7 linked regions of the Homo sapiens genome follow. The protein of the gene in region 3 interacts with the protein of the main gene of each other region in a biochemical or structural test. Each region holds a gene or a part of one and is shown on either strand. Other genes may lie near its edges. The genes, in order: FAT1, APPL1, LDB3, SDK2, KCNT1, TMEM178B and RAMP3.

Evidence for each region.
Region 1: the proteins of LDB3 (region 3) and FAT1 interact in a test that uses a peptide from one of them, tested with the Homo sapiens proteins (one large-scale study listed by IntAct).
Region 2: the proteins of LDB3 (region 3) and APPL1 interact in a test that uses a peptide from one of them, tested with the Homo sapiens proteins (one large-scale study listed by IntAct).
Region 4: the proteins of LDB3 (region 3) and SDK2 interact in a test that uses a peptide from one of them, tested with the Homo sapiens proteins (one large-scale study listed by IntAct).
Region 5: the proteins of LDB3 (region 3) and KCNT1 interact in a test that uses a peptide from one of them, tested with the Homo sapiens proteins (one large-scale study listed by IntAct).
Region 6: the proteins of LDB3 (region 3) and TMEM178B interact in a test that uses a peptide from one of them, tested with the Homo sapiens proteins (one large-scale study listed by IntAct).
Region 7: the proteins of LDB3 (region 3) and RAMP3 interact in a test that uses a peptide from one of them, tested with the Homo sapiens proteins (one large-scale study listed by IntAct).

The regions. Positions count from the first base shown.
Region 1 is NC_000004.12:186,615,857-186,619,356, forward strand, and holds part of FAT1 (protocadherin Fat 1 isoform 1 precursor), read right to left. Parts: coding exon 1,852-3,500; intron 1,346-1,851; coding exon 1,149-1,345; intron 1-1,148.
Region 2 is NC_000003.12:57,262,229-57,265,728, reverse strand, and holds part of APPL1 (DCC-interacting protein 13-alpha), read right to left. Parts: intron 1-3,500. UniProt on the Homo sapiens protein: Multifunctional adapter protein that binds to various membrane receptors, nuclear factors and signaling proteins to regulate many processes, such as cell proliferation, immune response, endosomal trafficking and cell metabolism.
Region 3 is NC_000010.11:86,717,011-86,720,510, forward strand, and holds part of LDB3 (LIM domain-binding protein 3), read left to right. Parts: intron 1-953; coding exon 954-1,134; intron 1,135-1,716; coding exon 1,717-1,837; intron 1,838-3,500. UniProt on the Homo sapiens protein: May function as an adapter in striated muscle to couple protein kinase C-mediated signaling via its LIM domains to the cytoskeleton.
Region 4 is NC_000017.11:73,637,946-73,641,445, reverse strand, and holds part of SDK2 (protein sidekick-2 precursor), read left to right. Parts: intron 1-3,500.
Region 5 is NC_000009.12:135,782,185-135,785,684, forward strand, and holds part of KCNT1 (potassium channel subfamily T member 1), read left to right. Parts: intron 1-1,839; coding exon 1,840-1,941; intron 1,942-2,350; coding exon 2,351-2,434; intron 2,435-2,576; coding exon 2,577-2,705; intron 2,706-3,125; coding exon 3,126-3,146; intron 3,147-3,500. UniProt on the Homo sapiens protein: Sodium-activated K(+) channel. Acts as an important mediator of neuronal membrane excitability. Contributes to the delayed outward currents. Regulates neuronal bursting in sensory neurons. Contributes to synaptic development and plasticity.
Region 6 is NC_000007.14:141,080,564-141,084,063, forward strand, and holds part of TMEM178B (transmembrane protein 178B precursor), read left to right. Parts: intron 1-3,500.
Region 7 is NC_000007.14:45,178,291-45,181,790, forward strand, and holds part of RAMP3 (receptor activity-modifying protein 3 precursor), read left to right. Parts: intron 1-3,500. UniProt on the Homo sapiens protein: Accessory protein that interacts with and modulates the function of G-protein coupled receptors including calcitonin gene-related peptide type 1 receptor (CALCRL), calcitonin receptor (CALCR) and G-protein coupled estrogen receptor 1 (GPER1).

The sequences.
Region 1 (3,500 bases), on a different chromosome or scaffold from region 3:
CCCATCCAACATCTCGCCATCTCTCAATGTCTAAAAAACATGGTCAACTGTATGTCTCATTACTTTAGCAAACTGGAATTGGAACTCAACACGGAACTCCTCTAAAACCAGCCCCCGGCTCAGACTCCTCTTTGCCACGGCCTTGGTCGCTCCCCCTACTCATGTAGAAAGTCGGGCTCGATGGCATGCTGGCTGGCTGTCACACCAGATGGTCTTCCTCGGTGGTGGCTTTGGTCCTTTCACTCCTTCCCCACCTCTGCCTTTCCAGGGCCCCCTTGCATCCACTCCTCCCTGTCTAAATAATGGGCACGATGCTTCCAAACTAAGCTTAAGAACTCGTCTCATGTCATCTCTACCTTACCGATATAAAAGGCTCCAAAGTCCCTATTTTCTCTAGGATCGAGTTCAAATCCCTTGGAACGACCGCCACTGCCCACTGTAATCCAGTTCACCCTTTTCCAAGACTCTCAGTGCAGACTCCCCACTTCTGGCAAACTCAGTGGCTACTCCCACAATCCCTCCTCACACTCCATGGCCCCTCCCCACCCACTCCTGACGACCCACTTACTGCCCCCCGAAGCTGAGCCAGCCCTTTCTCTGGGCAGCCCTTCTCACCCTCTGGCCCCAGGGACCACCCCTGCTCGAGCCACATGCCCTCATCTAACCTTGGAGGGAGCAGCCCTTCCTACGTCTACTTTTAGTTCCCACTGAATGGTGAGCCGCGCAGATGCAGGAAGCACGCTGTCCACCTCTGAGCTTCTCCAGCGTGCAGAAGAGCAGATGCCCCCAAAACAGTGTCTCACGGCACGTCGGCACTTTGTTTCCCGTCAGATCCTTCCCCCAAAACAGCTGTATCCCCATATTAAGAGAATCCCCTCATGAAAAGGTTACAGAGCATTTTCAGTGTTGGATGCAACTGGAGTCCTGTCCGTAATTTAGTTTTCTAGAATGAGGCTTTTGATTTATTGAGCATTCCCGCAAATAGTTCTGAAGCTTTTCCAAGTCTTACCCCATTTAACACCTCTGCTTAATCAGTAAGTGATCATAAAACACATGTGAATTACACCACAGCGCCAAATGATGGTCCCATTGAAAGAATTAAGAAATTGAAATTCATAACACACAAATGTAAGGGAAGAGCTGCTTACCTTTTCACAAACTGGACTGTTGTCATTTGCATCCAGAACTTTCACTTCAACTATCGCTTTTGATGAGAAGGTGCCATCAGTTGCCGTGATAGTAAGAAGGTAATTGTCCCTTTTTTCCCTGTCTAGAGGTTTCTTCACATATACCTTCCATTCATTCTGTATAGTTTCAACGGCAAACTGTCCTAAAGGATCCCCTCCTATTAAATCAATGGAGGAAGATAATAATCAAATTTGTTGAAAGGATAAAAATAAGTAACAGAAAAAATAAACTGTACAAAAGATGTATAATGTTATAGTTTAAAAGAATTGAGTATTAAAAGAATTAATTTGGCATATATTAGCCTTCCAATTTACAAAAACAAGGGCAGCATTAAAATGCATAAACATAGCATTAAGACTACTAATCATTTAGCCTGCATTAAAACTATAGATGTTTTTAATTATATTTATTATACACTAAGTATAAGGTTCAAAAGAATGAGTCACAAAAATCAAAAACAGTCTAATGAAACAACTGGTAGCTTTGCTCAGGTAACAAGCTTGAAATGAGGCTCAACAGATGTTATTTCTACGTATTATTTTAGATATTTTTAACTAAAATCATCCCTTAAATCCCCAATTTCCATACAATACAGATCTTATACTTTATGCTTCTAAAAATCATTTTAAATTAATTAAACCGTTTGGTATGAATTTTTTTTACCTGTTATGAAATATGTAACTTGTCTGTTGATCTCTTCAGAATCAGCATCCGTGGTACTTAAGATGGCAATCACCCCACCTTGGGGGTCATCCTCACTCACAGTCCCTTTATAGATCTCGGCCGTGAATCGTGGTGGACTATCGTTGACATCGGTGACGGTAACATCCACAATGGCTGTGGAGGATAGCTGGATCTTTTCACCATGATCTGATGCAACCACTTTAATCTGGTAATTGTCTCTCTTTTCATGGTCAAGTTCCTTTAAAGTTGTAATCCAGCCTGTTTCCATGTTAATGGCAAAGGATTCAATGACTTCCACACTTTGTGACTGATCCAGGCTATACATAACTTGGCCGTTGGTTCCTGAGTCAGCATCAGATGCCCTGATCTGAATTACTCTACTTCCCCCTGGCAGGTTTTCAACAATGAATGCCTCATATGGACTAGATTCAAAGACCGGGCTGTTGTCATTTGCATCTTTCACTTGGATACTAACATCTACAGAAGCCACCATCTCATGGTCATCTTGAGTGCACCTGGCCAGTATGGAAAACTGATACCACTTAGTTGTCTCATGATCAAGACTCTTCTCCAACTTCAGTCTCCCGCTCTGTCTGTCAATCACAAAGGACTCATCCCTATTGCTTTCTGGAGTATTCCCTTTGACCAGGCTGTAAAGAACAGTCCCACTATGTTCTGCTCGGATGAGATCTATCTCTGTTCCAATAGGCACGTCCTCTGACACTGTAAAGGTATAGAAAGGTTCTGAAAATTTTGGAAGCTGCATTTCCGGTGGAAGGATTTTAACATAGACAAGAACAACAGATTCTTTTGATGGAGACCCATTATCCACAGCTCTAACAAAGAAAGTGAAGAATTCATTTTCCAAGCCAATGAGGCTCTCCTTTGTAGTGATTACGCCGGACAGTTTGTTAATTTCCAAATTCTCTTTTACACTTTCAGAGTCTGCTTCAATGGCATAGGTGATGTCGGCATTGGAGCCCTCATCGGCATCACTTGCAAGAACTTTAACGACTGAAGTCCCTTTAGCAGCACTGGACCCGATATTCACTTCGTATTTGGTTGCTCGAAATTGTGGTGCATTGTCATTGTCATCTGTAAGGATGACATTCACGGTGCAGAAAGCAACTTTTCCTCCAGCATCCTTAGCCATTAAACGGACTGAGATCACTTTCTCCGCCGGGGTTTCTCGATCAAGTTTTTCCAAAGTAAATATCTGTCCTCTCTCATTTATGTAAAATCTGTCTTTGGCAAAGTCATTTACAATATGGTAAGTAACGTGACCATAAATACCAGAATCCCCATCCGTAGTTTTCACCTCCATCACCAGGGTATGTAGGGGAGCGTTTTCAGCTAGTTCCACTTCATATTCGTTCTGAAGGAAAGCAGGACTGTGCAAATTGCCTCCAATTACAGTTACATGAACCTGGGTGGAACTTCTAAAAACTCCATCAGACACTGACAGGTTAAGACTGTAAAATGGCTTCAGGGCGTGCCGGTGCAGGTTTGAGAGGGTGATAATCCCTGTTGCACTGTCAATGACAAAATGTTTATGATCATTGCCAGACAGAATGGAATACTGCAACTTGTCTATGTCTGAACTGTCTGCATCATAGGCTTTTACACAG
Region 2 (3,500 bases), on a different chromosome or scaffold from region 3:
AATTGTAAAGGAAGAAGTCAAACTATCCTTGTTTGCAGATGATATGATGATCTTATATTTAGAAAAACCTAGACTCCACCAAAAAACTATTAGAACTGATGAATTCAGTAAAGTTTCAGGATACAAAATCAACATACAACAATTAGTAGCATTTCTATATGCCAACAGTGAACAATCTGAAAAAGAAATAAATAAAGTAATCTCACTTACAATAGCCACAGATAAAATTAAATACCCAGGAGTTAACCAAAGTGAAAGATCTCTATAATGAAAACTACAGGCTGGGCGCAGTGGCTCAGGCCTGTAATCCCAGCACTTTGGGAGGCCGAGACAGGTGGATCACTTGAGGCCAGGAGTTTGAGACCAGCCTGGCCAATATGGTGAAACCTCATCTCTACTAAAAATACAAAAATTAGCCAGGTGGTGGTGGCGCATACCTGTAATCCCAGGTACCTGGGAGGCTGAGGCATGAGAATTACTTGAACCTGGGAGGCAGACATTGCAGTGAGCCGAGATTATGCAACTGCACTCCAGCCTGGGCAATAGAATGAGACTCTGTCTCAAAAGAACAAACAAAAAAAACAAAAAACTATAAAACACTGATGAAAGAAATTGAAGAGGACACCAAAAATGGAAACATATTCCACGTTCATGGATTGGAAGAATCAATATTGTTAAAATGTCCATACTACCCAAAGCAATCTATAGATTCAATGCAATCCCTATCAAAAAACCAATGGCATTCTTCACAGAAATAGAAAAAACAATCTGAAAATGTATATGGAATCATAAAAGATTCAGAATAGCCAAAGTTATTCTGAGCAAAAATAACAAAATTAGAGAAATCACATTACCTGACTTCAAATTACAATGCTACAGAGCTATAGTAACCAAAACAGCATGGTACTGGCAAAAAAAAAAAAAAAAGACACATAGACCAGTGCAACAGAATAGAGAATCCAGAAACAAATCCACACAACTACAGCGAACTCATTTTTGACAAAGGCACCAAGAATATACATTGGGGAAAAGACAGTCCCTTCAATAAATGGTGCCGGGAAAACTGGATATCCATATGTAGAAGAATAAAACTAGACCCCTCTCTCTCACCATATACAAAAATATTTTTTAAAAAAATTTTTTTTTATTTTTTTTATTTTTTTTTAAATTTTTTTAAATATAATTAAAATGGATTAAAGCCTTAAATCTAAGACCTTGAACTATGAAACTACTACAAGAAAATATTGGGGAAACTCTCCAGGACATCAGTCTGGGCAAAAATTTCTTGAGTAATACCCCACAAGCACAGGCAACTAAAGCAAAAATGGACAAATGGGATCTCATCAAGTTAAAAAGTTTCTGCACTGCAAAGGAAACAATCAACAAAGTGAAGAAACAAGCCACAGAATGGGAGAAAATATTTGTAAACTACTCATCTGACAAGGGATTAATAACCAGAATATACAAAGAGCTCAAACAACTCTATAGGAAAAACCTTAATCTGATTTAAAACTGGGCAAAATATTTGAATAGACATTTTTCAAAAGAAGACATACAAATGGCAAACAGGCATATGAAAAGGTCCTCAACATCACTGATCATCAGAGAAATGCAAATCAAAACTACAATGTATCATCTCACCCCAGTTAAAATGGCTTATAGCAAAAAGGCAATAACAAATGCTGGGAAGCATGTGGAGAAAAGGGAACCCTTGTACACTGTTGGTGGGAATGTAAATTAGTATAACCACTATGGAGAAAAGTCTGGAGGTTCCTCAAAAAACTAAAAATAGAGCTACCATATGATCCAGCAATCCCACTGCTGGGTATATACCTAAAAAAAGGAAATCAGTATATTGAAGAGACATCTGCACTCCCATGTTTGCTGCAGCTCGGTTCACAATAGTTAAAACTTGGAAGCCACCTAAGTGTCCATCAACAGATGAATGGAAAAAAAAAAAAAACAACAGATGAATGGATAAAGAAAATGTACACACACACACAATGGAGTACTATTCAGCCAGAAAAAAAGAATGAGATTCTGTCATTTGAATGGATGATACATGGATAAAGAAAATGGATAAAGAAAATGTGGTACTTACATACAATGGAGTACTATTCAGCCATAAAAAAGAATGAGATTCTGTCATTTGCAATAAGATATATGGAACATGGAGGTCATTATGTTAAGCAAAATAAGCCAGGCACAGAAAGACAAATATTGCATGTTTTCACTTATCTGTGGGATCTAAAAATCAAAACAATTGAACTCATGGAGCCAGAGAACAGAAGGGTGGTTACCAGAGGCTGAGAAGGGTAGTGTGGGGATGGGGGGTGGGAGGATGGTTAATGATTAAAAAAAAAAAATAGAATGAATAAAACCTGGTATTTGATAGAACGGGGGACTACGGTCAATAATAATTGTACATTTAAAAATAACTAAAAGAGTATAATTGGATTGTTTCTAATACAAAGGATAAATGCTTAAGGGAAGGAATACTCCATTTTCCATGATGTGGTTATTACGCATTGCATAAGTGTAGCAAAATATTTCATGTACTGCATAAATATATACACCTGGCTGGGCGAGGTGGCTCACACCTGTAATCCCAGCACTTTGGGAGGCCGAGGCAGGCGGATCATCTGAGGTCGAGAGTTTGAGACCAGCCTGACCAACATGGAGAAACCCTGTCTCTACTAAAAATACAAAATTAGCTGGGCGTGGTGGCGCATGCCTATAGACCCAGCTACTCAGGAGGCTGAGGCAGGAGAATCGCTTAAACCCGAGGGGGCGGAGGTTGCAATGAGCCAAGATCGCGCCATTGCACTCCAGCCCAGGTGACACAGCAAGACTCCATCTGGAAAAAAAAAAAAAAATGCATACACACACACACACACACACACACACACACACACCCCTTGTACCCACAAAAAACGAAAAACAAAGATCATCCTACTTTCACCATTTTAGCTCTAATTAGTCTCTTGAGAAACTTTGTTAGTACGATATTCTCAATAATTGTTCTATTAAAGGTTCTTTTTCCAGCTGGGTGTGGCAGCTCATGCCTGTAATCCCAGCACTTTGGGAGGCCAAGGCAGGTGGATCACTTGAGGTCAGGAGTTCAAGACCAGCCTGGCCAACATGGTGAAATCCTGTCTCTACTAAAAAAATTAGCCGGGCATGGTGGCACACAACTGTAGTCCCAGCTACTTGGGAGCTGAGGCAGGAAAATCACTTTAATCCAGGAGGTGGAGGTTACGGTGAGCCAAGATTGTGCCACTGCACTCCAGCCTGGGCAACAGAGCAAGAGTCTGTCTCAAAAAAAAAAAAAAAAAAAAAAAAAGGTTATTTTCCATAGAAAAAAAAAACACTAGAAGAAAATGAAGGGAAAACTCTCCTGCACATTGGTCTCGGCAAAGATTTTATGCCTAAGACCTCAAAAGTATAGGCAATAAAAATAAACAAATGGGACTTAAACTAAAAAGTGTCTGCATAGCCAA
Region 3 (3,500 bases):
CCAGCAGGATGCCTGGTGCCAGGAACTCCCCCTTGGGCTAAGGTTGAGGTCTGGGAATCACCAGGCTTGTCAGTAGGTTTACAGGGCATTTTGTTAGACAGTGTTGGTTTTGACCCAGTTTTCCTTTAGGGTTGTTTCTGGGTCTTTCCACAGACAGGCCTGGGCTGCTCAGGGGGTTGGTGGGCATCTGCCAGACTAAAATGAAAACAAGTGATTTCATACTTAGAAGCCATGGACCATGGGTGCTGTTGTTTGAATACAGTATGTTTGTGTGCATGTGTGGTGTGAGCTTATATACGTGAAAAATACACTTTTATTTAAAACTAAAGTAATACATACTCATTAGTGAAGAATTGGAAAACACAGAAAAGTAAAAATTAGAATATAAAAAAATGTCTTCATAGTCCCACTGTTCTGACTGCTAACCTGGAACTAGACAATACAAGTTTGTATCCTGGTCTACCACTTACTAGCCCTATGGCCTTAAACAAGTTGTTCAAACTCTGTGTGCCTCAATTCCCCTATCTAAAAATGGGTATTATAATAGTACCTAGTGCGTAGGATTGTTGTGAGAATTAAGCAAGTTAATAAATGCAAAAGTCTTCTTGAATAGAGCCTGACACAGAGTAATCACTTAATAAATGTTAGCCATCAGCATCATCATTATTGCATTTCTTACTATCATTATCAGTGGTCAACTGAATTCTATAATATGTTTACCCAGTCCCCTATTGGTAGATGTTTGAGTTGCTTCCTGATTTTCTTTATTGTAAGTGATGCAACAATGAACACCTTTCTGCATGGAGCTTTCTCTGAATTTCACATTACTTCATCAGAACAGTCACAAAAGTCAGAGTTATTGGGTAAAAGTATAAACAGTGTTGGGGTTCTTCAAATATCTAATTCCAAGTTCTGGGAGCTGCCTTACTGGGTGCCATTCTGTGCTTCCCCAGGGGCCCATTTCTGGTAGCCATGGGCCGTTCTTGGCACCCTGAAGAGTTCACCTGTGCCTACTGCAAGACTTCCCTGGCAGATGTGTGCTTTGTGGAAGAGCAGAACAACGTTTACTGTGAGCGATGTTATGAGCAATTCTTTGCCCCGCTGTGTGCCAAGTGCAACACCAAAATTATGGGGGTAAGTGGGAGGCCTCCATTTCCTCTGACCCATGTCTCTTCCCCAGCCCTTCCCCAAGATCGTGGGATCCCATTAGGAAGCCAAGAAGTTGCTGGTAACAGAGAAAGCAACTCCATTTTTATCCTAAAAGGGAATTGGTTTGCCACCAATAAACTTGGGGATAAATGAACTTGATGCAAGAGATGATTGTGTGCCTGTTCCACACAGCTTGAAGTGGTGGTGGAACTTCTGCAAAGCAAGTGGTTGCTTCACAGCCTGACCTTACCACTCACCAGAATGTGGCCTTAACCCTCAATGCCCCTTTGGTAAATGACAGTAATAAGCAGTACCTCCTCCCAGGTTTAATGGGAGGATTAAGCCTCACAGTTTATGTAAGAAAGCACAGAACCTGGCACCCAGCTGGAGAGTGACAACCCCTTCTCTGACACCCCTGGGTCTTTCTTCAGAGTGACCAAGGCCTGCATCCTGAGATCTCCTGCCCTGTTCCCTGGTAGGATGCTCGGGCAGTGGCTGGAGCCTGGTGGGGTAGTCAAGCCCGCTCCCTCTCTCCTTTCTGTCCTGAGCTTAGGCTCTTTCCCCCAGGAAGTAATGCATGCCTTGAGACAGACATGGCACACCACCTGCTTCGTCTGTGCGGCCTGCAAGAAGCCTTTTGGGAACAGCCTCTTCCACATGGAAGACGGGGAGCCCTACTGCGAGAAAGGTAGGAACACTTCGATGGCATGTGGGGAGGCCCCACAGCCTGGGAGAAAGGGGCAGGCACAGGGAACTAACTCCTGCCTAATCCATTCACATCCGACCACCCAGAGGCCTTTATTTCTGGAAGAAACCTTTGTTTTTGCTTTTAATGGCAGAATCATGCTAATATCACACAAAGGAAGTTAACTATCTCCCCTGCCCATATGGTTGCAGCTTTGGGGAGAGTGAGGTGCAGAGTCTATAGCTTATTTTATGCATCAAATATGTGGATCTGGTTAGGTGAGGTGGCTCACACCTTAATCCCAGCACTTTGGGAGGCCGAGACAGAAGAATTGCTTGAGCCCAGGAGTTTGACACCAGCAACATAGCAAGACCCAGTCTCTACAAAAAATATAAACATTAGCCAGGTGTGGTGGCGCGTGCCTGTAGTCTCAGCTACGCAGGAGGCTGAAGTGGGAGGGTCGCTTGAGTCCAGGAGTTCGAGGCTGCAGTAACCTGTGATAGCACCACTGTATTCAGCCTAGGCAACAGAGTAAGATCCTGTATCTCAAAAAAAAAAAAAAATGTAGATCACAAGTTGGCATCTTATGACCACTGGGAAACCTTTCAGGTTATTTTGATTTGGAGACCACAAGGTCTAGTCTGAAAAGGCCTTGGCTGTGGACTTTGTCCTTCATTCTATTCCTGGTTCCACTTTGGGCTGCTTTGTAAACCTGAGCAAGTTACTAACCTTCTCTGAGCCTTACTTTCCTCGTCTGTAAACACCTGCCTTACAGAGCTGTGGTGAGGATTAAACCAGAGAAGGCGTGTAGAGCATCAAATATGCGAGACCCCTTCCTCTGCCCCTGTGATATTTATCAGACTTTGATGTTCCTGCAGATTCCTGTAATCTCACGGAGTGAATTCAGAGTTTCTCTGTACCCCCAAAATGCTATATGTTATCTTAAAATGCTAAGTAAATTATTGTAAATTCAAGAGACAAAGCACTTCATTAGATAGGTGGAAGTCAGTCACTCATTTATTCAGAGGCTTCCCCCTTCAGAAAGGATTTGAAGCAGGTTCCAGAAAAGGTAACACAGACATGAAGGCTAAGACAGTAGAACCAGAAAATCAGAGGCGGGAAAAGCAGGCATGCTGATTATGAAGAATAACAGAGCTGCAGGGACTAACTGGGTAGCAAATTTGAGGGCAAAAAGAGAAACACAGTAAGTTAGTTTACTTTAAAATCAGAAAGGAGAAAACATTCAGTTCCTCAAGGGAAAAAGCAAAACAAAATAAAACTTCTTTCCCCTGACTGTAAATTAGAAAATAAACGTTTTGGCTGGGCGCGGTGGCTCACGCCTGTAATCCCAGCACTTTGAGAGGCCAAGGCAGGCGAATCACCTGAGGTCAGGAGTTCAAGACCAGCCTGGCCAAAATGGTGAAACCCCATCTCTACAAAAATACGAAAATTAGCCGAGCATGATGGCGGGCGTCTGTAATCCCAGCTACTCGGGAGGCTGAGGTTGAAGAATCGCTTGAACCCGGGAGGCAGAGGTTGCAGTGAGCTGAGATACTGCCGTTGCACTCCAGCCTGGGCAACACAGTAAGACTCCATCTGAAAAAAAAAAGAAAGAAAGAAAAGAAACGTCTTGGGTTCTTGTACTAGTGAATGCCCTTCCCAGCTC
Region 4 (3,500 bases), on a different chromosome or scaffold from region 3:
TTGGCAGCAGAAAGAACGGGCTCTCATGATCTGGCTTTGCCGCTTCGCTGAAGAGAGGCCTTCTGCAAGGCTCTTAGCCACTAAGAGCCTCAGTTTCCTCATCTGTACACTGGCAATAATAGCTCTTGCCTTGTAGAATTGCTAGGAGAATTCAAGATATTCCAGGGGCAGGGCCCCAGCCAGTGCCTGGCACATAGAAGGTACTTAATACATGGCAATTATTATTCTTGTTATGACGGTTTTAACATTAAGCTAGAAGTCCATGAAGAATGGTACCCTGCCACCCACCAATAAGACCTTGAATTCTTTTTCCTTACCCAGGAGGTTTCTTTAAATTCCTTCCATGGCCACATCACTGTGTCTCAAAGAGTGGCCCTCAAGCACTTAGCTCCCAGGGAGTTGTAGCAATGCAGATTCTTGGGCTCCGCTCCCAGACACTGATTGGAAAGGTCTGGGTGAGCCTGGAAGTCTTTTAACTAGAGTCTCGAGAGATTTCCCATGTGCTTGGAAGCTTGATTACTGCTGGAGGTCATCCTGGCCAGCCTGAGAGGTTGGGAGAAGGGCAGGAGCAGCCGAGCCAGCTGCTCCAGAAGTTTCTTTCAAGAGAATCATGCCTGGGGGGAGAACAGAAGGAAGGGAATCTGAGCCGAGAGAACAAGGCAGTGGGGACAACCCTGAAAGAGGACTGGAACCCCCAGCTCTAGAGGCTCCTGAAAGGCTCCAAAGGGAGAAAGTTTAGTGCTGGGAGCTAATCACAATAAAAGCCAACAGTACACAAGGGAGCGGGATGAAAGTTTAATTACATGGTGTGGCTAAGCTGTAATTATTAATTACTGACAGCAAAAAATAACTTATTGATCAGGGCCTTTCGCTAATTACCAGGAGGCCGAGTGTCGTGCTTGCCTGGGGCTCAGCTGTCAAAAGCCCCACTCGAGAGTGGAATGGGGGTGTCCCTGCTCTCCCATGCCCCTCTTTCCCTCACCCTTTGTACCCCTTGGCTTCCGCGGGGGAGTCCGGAACATTCTGGCAGTGGTTAGATGAGGGATACAGCTTGGTGCTTCCACTGGCTGCAGAAAATGGCCCCTGCCTGGGAGGAACAGAGTCAGGACCCCCACCCAGAGGCTACATCCCGCTGGCAGCCTGACACCTGCCTCGGAAATCCCACCCTCGACCCCCCCACACACACACCCCACCCCCGCTTCATGCATTTGTTCGGCAAATATTTATCGACTGCCTCTTCCTCGTGTCCTCTACTGGAAGGCCGGCATAGGGGCCAGGAACCTTGTTCTACAAGGGAAAGGAGGCTGGGAAGGAGGCCAAATTCTTTACAGCGATCCTCTGTTTAAACAGCGCCTGAATGGCTGACTTTAAAATGAAGTGTTAACCTGCATATTGGTCCACATTTGACTTTGTACCACAGGACGCAGTCGGGCTGTAAGCTAACAAGGAGGGGAGAATGGGCTTATCTTCTGTCCTAAGGACTAATGGGAATCATTGCATTTGACTTGAAAGACACACGAAAAGTCATCTAGGACCGTCGTCTGCCCACAAGGCCATCTGGTCTCTGCTTGCATACCCTTGATGATGGAGGACTCACTACTGCTCAACACCAGCTGGCTGTTAGCTATGTTTTATGCTGATGAAGAAATTGTCCCCTTATAGCTGGTTTTCCTAGGATCTGGCTGTGGTTGAAGGGGTCCTCTGATTGGCTGGAACCCTCTCCCTGTCCCTACGGACTCCCAGCCCCTCTGGGAGGCAGGAGGCTGAGTTGGAATTGATGTCGGGTGTTAGTGTGCGCCCTGCGGGGTTTCTACCCCGCTCCCCCTGGAGCATGTTGCCACAGACAGCCCTGGAGCTGCCTAAAGCGGTGGGAATTAGTCATCATAATTTGGGGCCTTGGGATGCCAATAGCAACAAATGGGCCAGCAGCAACTGGCGGCTGCAGCCCACTGCCTGTAATGGAAAGGAAAACAAGCTGGTTGCCGAGACACCCCGGGTGCCCCCTCCCCTAGGTGTCCCACCCCTGCTGTCCATGTGCTGGGCAGGAGGCAGAGCCAGTGAGCAGCGTTGAGCAGGGATGCTCAGCATCCCCGGGGGAAGGGAGAGAGGGGACTGCAGGGCTTGTCCCCTCAGACTCCCTGGGCCTGGTGCCTGGACCAAAAAGCCTCTTGCTGAGCCCAGGGAGCCCTGGGGAGACCCTTCTCCTGCAGACGTGGTGAATGGCTCCCAGCGTGGCTTCTGCCCCTTTGAATCCTGCCTCCATCACTGGGCGATGCTGAGCTGAGCCAGTTTTCTCATCTGTAAAATGAGTAAAGTTAAAAATAGTTGTGTCTACCAGCCAGGCACAGTGGCTCACGCCTGTAATCCCAGCACTTTGGGAGGCCGAGGCCGGCAGATCACTTGAGGTCAGGAGTTCGAGACCAGCCTGGCCAACGTGGGGAAACCCCATCTCTATTAAAAATGAAAAAATTAGCCAGGCGTGGTAGTGGGAGCCTATAGTCCAAACTACTTGGGAGACTGAGGCAGGAGAATCTCTTGAACCTGGGAGGCGGAGGTGGCAGTGAGCTGAGATCGTGCCACTGTACTCCAGCCTACACAACAGAGCGAGACCCTGTCTCATTAAAAAAAAAAAAAAAAAAGACTGTTATCTACCTTTTAGAGTTGTCTTGGATAATCAAATGAGATTGTCCAGATCACTTTGAAAATGCCCTTTGTAAATGTTAAGTTCTTATAATGTGTCCATTACAGTCCAGGAGGGTGTCCTGATCACTGCCCCTCTACTCCCCAGACATGAACCTCCCCTCCCACCTCATCTCCTCACTCCCCCTGCATTCACTCCTGTCCCCACACTGACTGCCTGTTGTTCCTGGAATTTACCAGGCCTCCAACCTGGCACTTGAAGTTCCTGCCTTTCCATCAGTGGTGCCCACACCACCCAGATGTCTACAAAGTTCACCCTTGTTTCCTCCAGGACTTCCTCCTAATATGTCTTATCCATCTCGGAGCACCCTATAACGTGGCATCTTCCAGCACCCACTCCCTCGCTCTCCATCATTTTCTCCATTGCACTCAGCTCCAGCTGACATATATTGACTTGTTTGTTTATTATTGGTGTCTCTGGAGGGCAGGGGCTTTGTTTCATTCACTGGTATATTTCTAGCCACTAGGGCAGTGCCTGGCACGTAGGAGGAGTCAGCATAATATGAAGACTGAATGAATGAATGAATGCTTACTGGAGGCATACAGCCCACGGTCATCTGGCCCCTCCCAGCTCTCCAGCTTCCTGCCAGGCCTCTCGCCCCATCTCCAGAGCTGATTGACTTGTGAAATGCCTCTCGTCTCTGTACATCCAGCACACCCCATGCCATGTAGCCCTCAGCGCACTGAGCAGCCAGGTACCTCAAGAGTGGGGGCCCCGCCCTCCAGCAGCTCCCGCAGATGCATCCATGGAATGGGGTAGTGTTGCCATTGAGACAGGAGTCCCTGCTCAGATTTTCTGG
Region 5 (3,500 bases), on a different chromosome or scaffold from region 3:
CAGAGCGAGACCCTGTCTCAAAAAAAACCAAGCAAAAAAATGAAACTATTATTAAGGATGCTGCTGGTGGGGTGACATGCATCTCCCCTTGAGGGCTGGCTCCAGAAGGCTCTCAGAGCCCCGGTGTGTGAGAGGAGTCTCTCCCCTGAGGCCCACCTCCCCTGCCGTCCACCTCCCCTGGTCTCCAGCACCCAGGACTCCTCCACCACTTCATTGCTTTCACATGGTCAGCCTGTGTGATCTCTCCTCCTCACCAGGAGCCTTCCTTCAGGCTGGCTCTGCCCATCCTGGGGCTGCACGGTGCCTGTCCTGCTCCCTCTGACCGGGGGTCTCGTGCTCAGGAAGGGCTCATCCGCTCCTGTGTGCTCCTGTCTTCACTGTCACTTGTGAATGGCACCCGCTCAGCCCCTGCTGAAGCCCTCCTGTCCAGAAAGCAGGAGGAAATCTCTGGAAGGTCCTGAAACGTCCAGCTTTTTCTTTCCTTCCACGTCTCTCTCTGGCCCTGTCGTGGTTCTTGTTTCCTGTTTAGCGTTGTTCTGAGTAAAGGAAAATTAAAATTGCAAGTTGTTCTGGAATTTCACGTTCGTCTCCGCGAAGTACGGCTGGAATTCTGGATGCAAATCACCACGATTGCAAACTCACACGCCCATCGCAGCTCATCGCACCTGGTTCTTGCCCCAAGAGCGGAAACGCCGCACGAAACTAATTCCACTGTTTCTCACGCCCCAGCCTTCCCACCGGCCACTGATGAGTAAGGGCGAACCCGGAGGAAAAGGGGCTTCTGCCTGCTTGTCCTGTCGCTGTCGTGTCTTTTACCTGTGAATCGAGTTCTGGTTCCGGGGGGAAGTGTGGCCTCCGTGGGCGCACACGCCTGCCTGTGCACACTTGCTTGGAGGCCGAGCTCCAGGGTTGGGGCCCTCCGCTGAAGAATGACCCGAGAGTTGGCCACGGCCGGGTCCGGAGCCCGTGGATGTACCGCCTCACGTGACAGAAGGGCCTCTGCAGATGGGATTAAGTCACGGGCCTCGAGATGGGAGATCCTCCTGGAGCATCCGGCAGGTTCACGCCGTCAGGGTCCTTCTAGGGAGAGGCCAGAGGTCCCCATCCGGTGGGAAGAAGCTGCACGGCCAGCTCAGAAGAGGGAAGAGGGAGCCACAAGCCAAGGCAGGTGGCCTCCAGGAGCTGGAAAAGGCAAGAGAAGGAGGCCCCCAGGCCTCCAGAGGGAGCGGGGCCCTGCCCAGGCCTGGATCCAGCCTGAGACACCTCAAACTCCCGACTCCAGAAACGGGAGAGAGGAGACAGGTGTCGTTTTAGCTGCTAAGTTTGCGGTCATTTGTTACGGGAGCCCCAGGAAACTCAGTGGGTCCATTGCAAGCCTGGAGCACAGGGACGGGGAGGCCAAGGACAGCAGGGAGCCCGATGCTTGCTCCTCCTCAGCCCAGACTCCACACGCCCTCCGGCACCACTTACAAAACACCGGGGGAGGAGAGGATTATCAGGAGGATTTGGAATTTCGGGATGGCAAGAGCAGGGCGCTTGACCAAGCGCAGTGCCCATGGCAGCCGCCGGGAGTCCACCTTCTCATCAGAGCCCCACATCACTCCTCCCGGGCTCTGGCCCTGAGTGTGTCTGGGAAGATAGAGCTGGTTCAGGCCTGCCGGTGTATGCACACATGCAGACACACACTGTGTACACGTGGACACACACACCATGCACAAATGTGCACACAGGTATCATGCACACATGTACGGTGCACACACAGTGCCCTCGACCCCGTGGCTGCCGTGCCACTGGAGGGACCTCGGCACCAGCCCATCTGAGGCCCCTCCTTTCCCACAGAGGGAGCGAGAGAATGGCTCCAACCTGGCCTTCATGTTCCGCCTGCCGTTCGCCGCCGGCCGCGTCTTCAGCATCAGCATGTTGGACACACTGCTCTACCAGGTCAGCGGGGAAGCGGCAGCAGGAGGGTGGCGCCTGGGTGGGACCCCCGTCATGCCCTCAGCTCTTCAGCCTGGTCCCTGTTCTGAATGATAGGACTCCCTCTGAATGACCTTCCCTGGATTCCAAGGAGACCTCTGGGCCCTGTCCTTGCCCCAGGGATTTCTGGGCCCTTTTTGACCTATGGGTGCCTGGCAAGGGAGTTTTCTTAGAAAAGGCCTCCCAGAACTCTGCCTGTGGGTCATGTGGTGCTTGGGGACCTGGTGGTTCTGTGTGTGTGTATGCATGAGGGGTGGCGAGCCCGTGGCCGGTGGGGTATGGACCTGTGTCCCACGCCCGTGCCCGCGTGCCTCACTGTGGCTCCCTCCCTCCCTCCCTCCCTCCCTCCCTCCCTCCCTCCCTCCCTGGCCAGTCCTTCGTGAAGGACTACATGATCACCATCACCCGGCTGCTGCTGGGCCTGGACACCACGCCGGGCTCGGGGTACCTCTGTGCCGTAAGTGCCCCTGGCTGCGCTGGGCTGGGGGCGTGCTGGGCTGTCCAAGTGGGTGGATGGGCACCTGCCCCTGATTCACGGTGGCCAGGAGGCTCTGGGTGCTGCCACCTGCCCCAGCCAACTCAGGGTTCCCACCCTGCAGATGAAAATCACCGAGGGCGACCTGTGGATCCGCACGTACGGCCGCCTCTTCCAGAAGCTCTGCTCCTCCAGCGCCGAGATCCCCATTGGCATCTACCGGACAGAGAGCCACGTCTTCTCCACCTCGGAGGTTCTGGGGCAGCCTGGGGGCTGGGACTGTGGCAGCCCCTGTCCTGTGTGACCCACAGCATCCCCACCTTCCGGGGGCTGGGACTGTGGCAGCCCCTGTCCTGTGTGACCCACAGCATCCCCACCTTCAGTGTCAGGGACCTGGGCTAGATCAGCTTTGCTATTGCTGGCAGCTCCTTCCGTCTGGTCCGTGTGCCCACGTGTAGCGCTTCCAGCTGGAGCAGCCATGACCCCTACCGGGGGCAGAGAGGCTCAGGGGAGTCTTCAGGAAGAATACGGGCAGCCCCTGTGCTGCAGTCCACACAGCAGCAGGCACCGTGCCCACCAGCCCTAAGCATGTTCCGTGCAGACCCCAGGCTGAGGCGGCGTGGGGGGCAGGGGTGCGCCCACAGGTCCCAGACTGCGCCTGTTTCCTTTGCAGCCCCACGACCTCAGAGCCCAGGTAAGCAACCCCTCCGTGCCCACGCAGCTTCTGCGGAGCACCAGAACATCGCAGCTTCACATGGAGAAGCCTGCCAGGCCCCACCCACCCACCCACCCACAGGGCCCTGGGAAAGCCGAGGCAGGAGCGGGTCCCACGGATGTGTCGGCCCCAGCACGGCTCAGAGAAGGCTGTTGACACTCACTCCCTCCTGCACTGGTGGTGGGGAAGCTGAGGCCTGGGGGGAGTAGCCTGTGAGTTTGGACACCAGGTGCACCCCCGCCCCCTCCCAGGCCCCACCAAGGCAGGCAGCCCCCATGCCCATCTGGCCTGACCAGCCCCCAGCCTCCCAGGCCTTTCTGAAGGTGCCACCCA
Region 6 (3,500 bases), on a different chromosome or scaffold from region 3:
GAGCCGAGATCGTGCTACTGCACCCCAGCCTGGGTGATAGAGCGAGACTCCATCTGAAGAAAAATAGTCATAGAGTAAAAATAATATCTAATATATGAATCGTGTAATATAGCACAGGGTAATGGGCACCATGAAGGTCTGCCCTTACGAAGCGCAAAGGGGAAGAATGACAAGTAAGGCAAAAATGAAATGCAGTCATGTGCCCTGTAACATTTTGGTTAAAGACAGACTGCAGTGGTCTCATAAGGTTATCATGGAGCTGAAAAATTCTTATGGCCTAGTGACATCATAGATGTCACAGTGCAGCAACCCATTACTCCTGTGTTTGGGTTGAGGCTGGTGTAAACAAAGCTACTGCACTGCCGGCGGTATAGAAGTCTAGCACAAACAATTATGTACAGTATGTAATACTTGATAATAAAATGACTGTTACTGGTTTATATATTTACTATGCTATACTTCTAATCATTGTTTTAGAGTGTACTCCTTCTGCTTATAAAAAAAAGTTAACTGTAAAACAGCCCCAGGTGGGTCCTTCAGGAGGTATTCCAGAAGAAGGCATTGTTATCAGGAGGTGACAGCTCCATGTGCACCATTGCCCCTGAAGACTTTCCAGTGGGCTAAAATGTGGAGGTGGAAGACAGCGAGATTGATGATCCCAACCCTCTGCAGGCTTAGGCTAATGTGTGTGTGTGTGTGTCTTAGTTTTTAACAAAAACGTTTCAAAAGTTGAAAAATAAAAAATTTTATAAACAGAAAAAAGCTTATAGGATAAGGATATAAAGAAAGAGCCTGGGTGCAGTGGCTCACACCTGTAATCCCAGCACTTTGGAGGTTGAGGTGGGTGGATCACCTGAGGTCAGGAGTTCGAAACCAGCCTGGCCAACATGGTGAAACCCCGTCTCTACTAAAAATACAAAAAATTAACCAGGCATGGTGGCACATGCCTGTAATCCCAGCTACTTGGGAGGCTGAGGCAGGAGAATTGCTTGAACTTGGGAGGTGGAGGTTGTAGTGAGCTGAGATTGCACCATTGCGCTCCAGCCTGGGTAACAATAGTGAAACTCCATCTCAAAAAAAAGAAAAAAAAAAAGAAAGAAAATATTTCATACAGTTGTAAAGTTAAAAGAATTAAAAAGTATATAAAGTAAAAAATCTACAGTGAGCTGAGGTTATTGTTGAAGAAAGAAAAATATTTTGTATAGTTTGGTGTAGCCTAAGTGTACAGTATTTATAAGGTCTACAGTAGTGTACAGTAATGTCCTAGGACCTCACTTTCACTCGCCACTCACCTCTCACTCACTGACTCACCCAAAGCAACTCCCAGTTTTCTAAGCTGCATTCATGGTAAGAGTCTCCACAGGTGTATCATTTTTTGTCTTCTCTACTGCATTTCGACTGCATCTTTCCTATGTTTAGAAACACAAATACTTACCATTGTGTTATAATTGCCTACAGTATTCAGTACAGTAACATGCTGTTCAGGTTTATAGCCTTGGAGCAATAGGCTATACCACATAACCTTGGTGTGTACTAGGCTACACCATCTAGGTTGTGGAAGTACACTCTGATGTCTGCATGACGACAAAATCGCCTAACGATGCATTTCTCAGAACATATCCCTGTTGTTCAGTGACATGTGACTGTAGTTCCATACAAGGAGGCTTTGGGTGTTGCAGGGAAAAGAGGTGGTAAAACTAATATAGACTGGAGTTCAGGAGGTTTCATTAGCTGAGGGACCTCCACAGGCTCTTTCTTTCTGCATTCTTTATTGAATTCCTAGAGGGCAGGAACTGTTTAATGTCTAAAACACACTTGGGGTCCTGTACTTAGTAGGTTCTGAAAAACTGTTTGCTGATTAAAAAACTTAAGACATACTCACCTTCAAAGAAACACATGCAAACATCCATAGTCTTGTATACATGATGTGCACCTCCTTGCGTATACGCCATGTGTATGCCCATATGTAATAAATAAACACTCATAGTCCCATCTCTCCTCCTCAATCATCCTAAAACTCAACTAACCAGTGAGAGTCAGTGATTCAAGAAGAAAACCTGTGACTTACTGGGCAAATGAATGGATGGAGTAAAGAGATGTGTTTTGAGCACCTGCTGTGTGCAGAGCTCTTTGCTACGTGTGGAGGGAGAACAAAAAGGCATGGTTGGTTCCTGTCCTAAGGGAGCTTACACTCCAGCTCATGGTTTCCCAAGTTCATTGTCATGTGCAGTGGTATCAGGTGCTTCCTCAGGAGGTCTTACCTGCATCAATTGGATAAGGAATCAACTAGTCAGGGAATGCAGGAGTGAGCTCTTTTTATTGAGTCAACAAAGTCTAGAGCCTTTTTTTCTGTTGAAGAGGTCAGTTTATTTATTCTTTTACTGTAGGGTCAATTAGAGGATCAATACTGTGTATTCCACTTTGGATTGTCAGTTGAAAACATTTCCCCCTCTTTGCTATTAGTAAGTAATCCTAGGCCTTCAGGCAGAATGCTAAACACACTTGGGTTAGTTTGACCCATCATACACAGACACGCACACCTCCCCCCACACACATCTAGATGTTAGATGTTACAATCACAAGCGTCTATTTAGATGCAGATATGTTTGTAACTTACTACTCCCAAACAATCCACAGAGAGAGGAGGAAGGGTGTGACTTGGTGAATGAATAGATGGAAAAATCATCCTAATGTCTTGATTGCTGTTTTCGAGAGAATTCATATATTCTTTTATATGACTTATTTTCTCATATGTAAAATAATGTGTTTAGATTCTATAAACTCCAAGCCCTTTCATACTTTTACATTTGATGAGAAAGTTAGATTTAGGTGTCAAAGAGTAGATAATAGGTACATGGTTGAGGGAGGGTGAAAAGAGGGGCAAGGCAAAAGTTGATGGGGGGTGGGAAGAGAAAGAGGAAGGGAGGGAGAGAGAGAGAGAGACAGACAGACAGACAGACAGACAGATGTGAGAGACAAAGCAATTTCTAAAGAGATCATCCTGGGTTCTAGTTTGCAATAGGAATAGCTAATTTCTTACCACTCTAAAAACATGTAATAAAAACGAACTTTTCCTCTTTCAAATGGCTTGAAATGTGATTTGCAGTTCAGGGTTTAAAATGAAAAACCTAAGAGAAAGGTGATGACAGATGCACAACACTGTCAATGTACTTAATGCCACTGGACTTTAAAAGTGGTTAAAATGGTAAATTACCCCAAGGAAAAAAAAATACATTTAAACACTCAATAGAGAAAGGAACTGGATTCTGTTTAGTGTGTGGAATACTTCGTAGCCAAGGCTCTTCATTCATTCAGCAGAATTTTTTTTTTTTTTTGAGACAGAGTCTCGCTCTTGTTGCCCAGGCTATGTAGCTGGGATTACAGGCACATGCCGCCATGCCTGGCTAATTTTCGTATTTTTAGTAGAGATGGGGCTTTGCCATTTTGGCCAGGCTGGTCTCGAACTCCTGACCTCAGGTGATATGCCTGCCTCGGCCTCC
Region 7 (3,500 bases), on a different chromosome or scaffold from region 3:
CCTTACCTCCTTGGAAATTGCTCATGGCCTCACAGTCCTCTGCCCCACCCCACTCCACCTCTGGCTTTGCAGTCTTGTGCCACCCCCTGGTGGCTGCTGCCAGACCCTAAATGTGCTGGCCTCATGCTTTTGCATGTTAGCACCCCAGCCCCTGTCTTCCGTAGAGACACTGACCATGGCCCTGCCCCAGGAAGCCTCCCCGGCCCTGGCCATTCTAGTGGCCCAGCAGATGGGGGCTTCTTGAGGCTGTCACATCTGCAGCCCCACTCTGTGGGGGAACTGCTTGCTGAACCAAGTGGAATGGAATTCTGAGTCTGCTGGGAAGGGGTGCTGGGATTCAGGAAGGGGTTTTGCAGGCTCCTCCTGGTCCTCAGTGAGCCTGGACACAGGCCTGGAATGGACCCACTGGTGGGGGTGGAGTCAGGGAAGAGGAGGTCATAGCTTCGTAGCTTCTGGTCTTGCTCCTCTCTGTAACCCGCTAAAGCCTTGGTAAAGAGACTAAATAGAGATGTCCAGCCGTGGATTGGGAGGACAGGAGTGGAGGCAACCCGATGGGCATTTAGGAGCCAGTGAGTGAGTGGGCAAGAGCCACTGACTGAGTGCCCTTGGTGAAGTCAGACCTGATGCTGGAAAAGGGGAGCTGGGAACAGCCAGGTTGACATTGCGGAGCCCTCCCACGACCCGGCCGGCAGCACCAGCTCCCAAGAGAGTGGCAAGAGTAGCTGAGAAGCAGTGAGGTGTCCAGAGCCCTCCTCCACCCCAGCTGGACACTGGAGGTGTATTCTTGGAGCTGGTGACACCAGGGTTTCTGGGCCTTCCCATGTAATTGAGAACGTGGCACAGTGTCCCAGAGAGGGAGGCTGGAGAGAGCGGCTGATACGCATTATCTTTTGCCACTGGGTCCAGGAGGGTGGTCTAGGGTAGGATTGGAGCTGTCCTTTCTGAGGAGTGAGACCAGCCAAGAGGAAGGACCTAGAAGCAGTGACCCCCCCAACCCCTGGAAGCTCTGGGGACAAGCTCTTCTGCAGGGTCCCAGTGTCTCATCAGCTCTCAGTCCCCACTCCCAGTCACGAGTCACTTCCAAGCAGGGTCCCTGGAAATCTGACCTAAGGCTCTGACCCTGAAGGACAGAGACCAGAGAGATGGAACCAAGCAAACCCGGGGGCCATGCACCAAGAAGAAAACTGCAAACGTCACGACTGATATCTTCAGAGGGCAACAACTATCTCTCATGTGATGAATGAGAACAAAGAAAGAGGTTTAGAAATGGAAGATGCAATAGAAGTGAAATGGAATAGAAAGGTTGGAAGGGAGATGTTGAGGAAATCTCCCAGGAATAGGAGAGAGAGACAGAGAAGATGATCAGGAGGTCAGTGGTCAGTCCAGGCGTAACACCAAGATAGTAGGAATTCTAGAAAGAGAACAGGAGAATGGAAGGATAAAGGGCCCTTGCCAGGGGCTGAGGGCATGAGCTTGCAGCCGGTGAGGGCTTGCCCGGTACTAGCACGAGGGAGGAAAATGTCCCACATGGACCCTGGAATATCAGAGCTGTGGAAACAAAGGAAAACTTCTACACCTATCCAGAAGGAGGAAAAAAATGAGCTCTAGGTTGGAGATGAGGGGATCAGAGGCCTTCAGGCTCCCCCACCGCAGCCCTGGAAACCGAGGACTGTGGGATGCAAGGACCTGAGAATTTCGGACTGTGATTTCTCAGCTAGTGTGCTATTTCCCGCCAATTTGTCCACTAATTAGGGAGAAACGAAAATACTGTCAGACGTGTGGCACCTCCAGCATCTGATTCCCACATACCTTTCTCAAGCTCTGGCGGCTGTGCGCCAAGGTGTGGAGCAAACCACGACAAAAGAAGCTATGAGATTTGGGGAGCGGAGCCAAGGCAGGAGAGGGAAGCCCCAGGGAGGGCGGTGCCCCAGCGTGGCAGTACACCCTGGGTGGAGGCAGCCTGGCCCAGGTGGAGGGCACTTGATGCTTACCTGACATGGTGACTGCCTGCCCATGCCCTGCAGCCCAGCTCAGTCAAGAATGAAGGACACTCCTTTCTTTCCCCTGAATGTTCATTCTGCTTTGGTCCCCACTGAAGCAGGGTGGGCCTTGGTGAGCTTAGAGGAGAGGTGGCTTGCTCCCCTCAATAGGACTGGTCCACATGACGACCCCATCAGGAGTCGAGTCATGGCTGGGAAGACCCTATTCCCCAAACTCGCCCATGGCCTGCCTGTGGCCTTCCCTGGGGAGGAGTCTCATTGCCCCTCGGGGCAACCAGAGCGTGTCCTCTCCTGGGAACCTCCCTCCAATAGCAGCAATGGGCTCCTTCTGTACCCAGTTAAGGAGCATTGCTATGGGATTTCCAAATGCAACACTATATTGCCTGGGAACACACTCAGGTGGTGAAACATAAAGGAAGGTGGGCAAACACCCCAGAGGTGGGTGGGGGGAGAGGGAGTCTGACTGGGGGGTTTGCCCGGCTTCCAGCCTGCTGGGCTCCTCTCCTTCCCATCCTGGGTTGTGGTGCATCTTTTTTAGGGAGAGTGCTCTGGGGAGCCTGACTGAAGGAGGAGTGGAGAGGCCCCAGATTATCCAGGGGATGAATAAATCATAAGTAGTTCCCGGTTTTCTAGAGAAGCACTGAATGTGGACCTCTCTAGATATGTGACAAAAATGCAGATTTTGTGGATCCACAGAGATGGGTGCTGTGCTCAGCTCTGCCCCAAACCTAACAGCTGGGGTGGGCTCACCCCATGACCTCCTCTGTGCCAGGCACTTGCTGGGGCACATGGACCTCAACTCATTTGGTTCTCTCAACCACCTGATAGGATAAGTGTTATTAAACCCACTTACAGATGAGGAAACTGAGGTCCAGGGAGGATAAATGACATGGCCCATACCACAAAGATGGTGAGTGGCTGAGCTGGAGTTGGAGAGGCCCTGCCATGTTGGCTCTGCAACCTGAGCCTGAAGCCACTGTCCATGCTGTCTTCTGGGATTACCTCTGCTCCGTGGGCTTCTCCATGTGGCCTAGCTTTGGCTGGGAGTGGGGTTTGGGAACAGCAGGGGCTTTCAGCCCTGCCTCACCTCCTCTTGGGACGGTTCTGGGGCTAGACATCACTCCTCTTGCCCTGTAGACTCGCTGTCCACAGAGGGTCTTCTCCAGGGTCTGTCTGGCTCATCTCAGCCCTGGGGATGGTTGTTGGGGGGTGGCATTCCTGGGTAGCAGTTCAGTGGAATGACTTTGGAGGCACAGAGGTTACCGCATGTGATTCTCATCACACACATAGATGCTGGGAACTTCTGAAGGTGAAGGCTGTTGCAGGGTGTTGTTAGACGGCTCCCCAGCTCCTGGATCAGCTGGCGGGGGGTTGGGGTGGACAGCAGGCTACTGAATCTGAGGCCCTGTGGGAGAAGCAGGTCAGGGAAGATGAGGGTTTGTCCATGGACCTAGCTGTTGAGGTGTCTCTAATGCCTGGGCATGTCTCAGGTGCTGCATT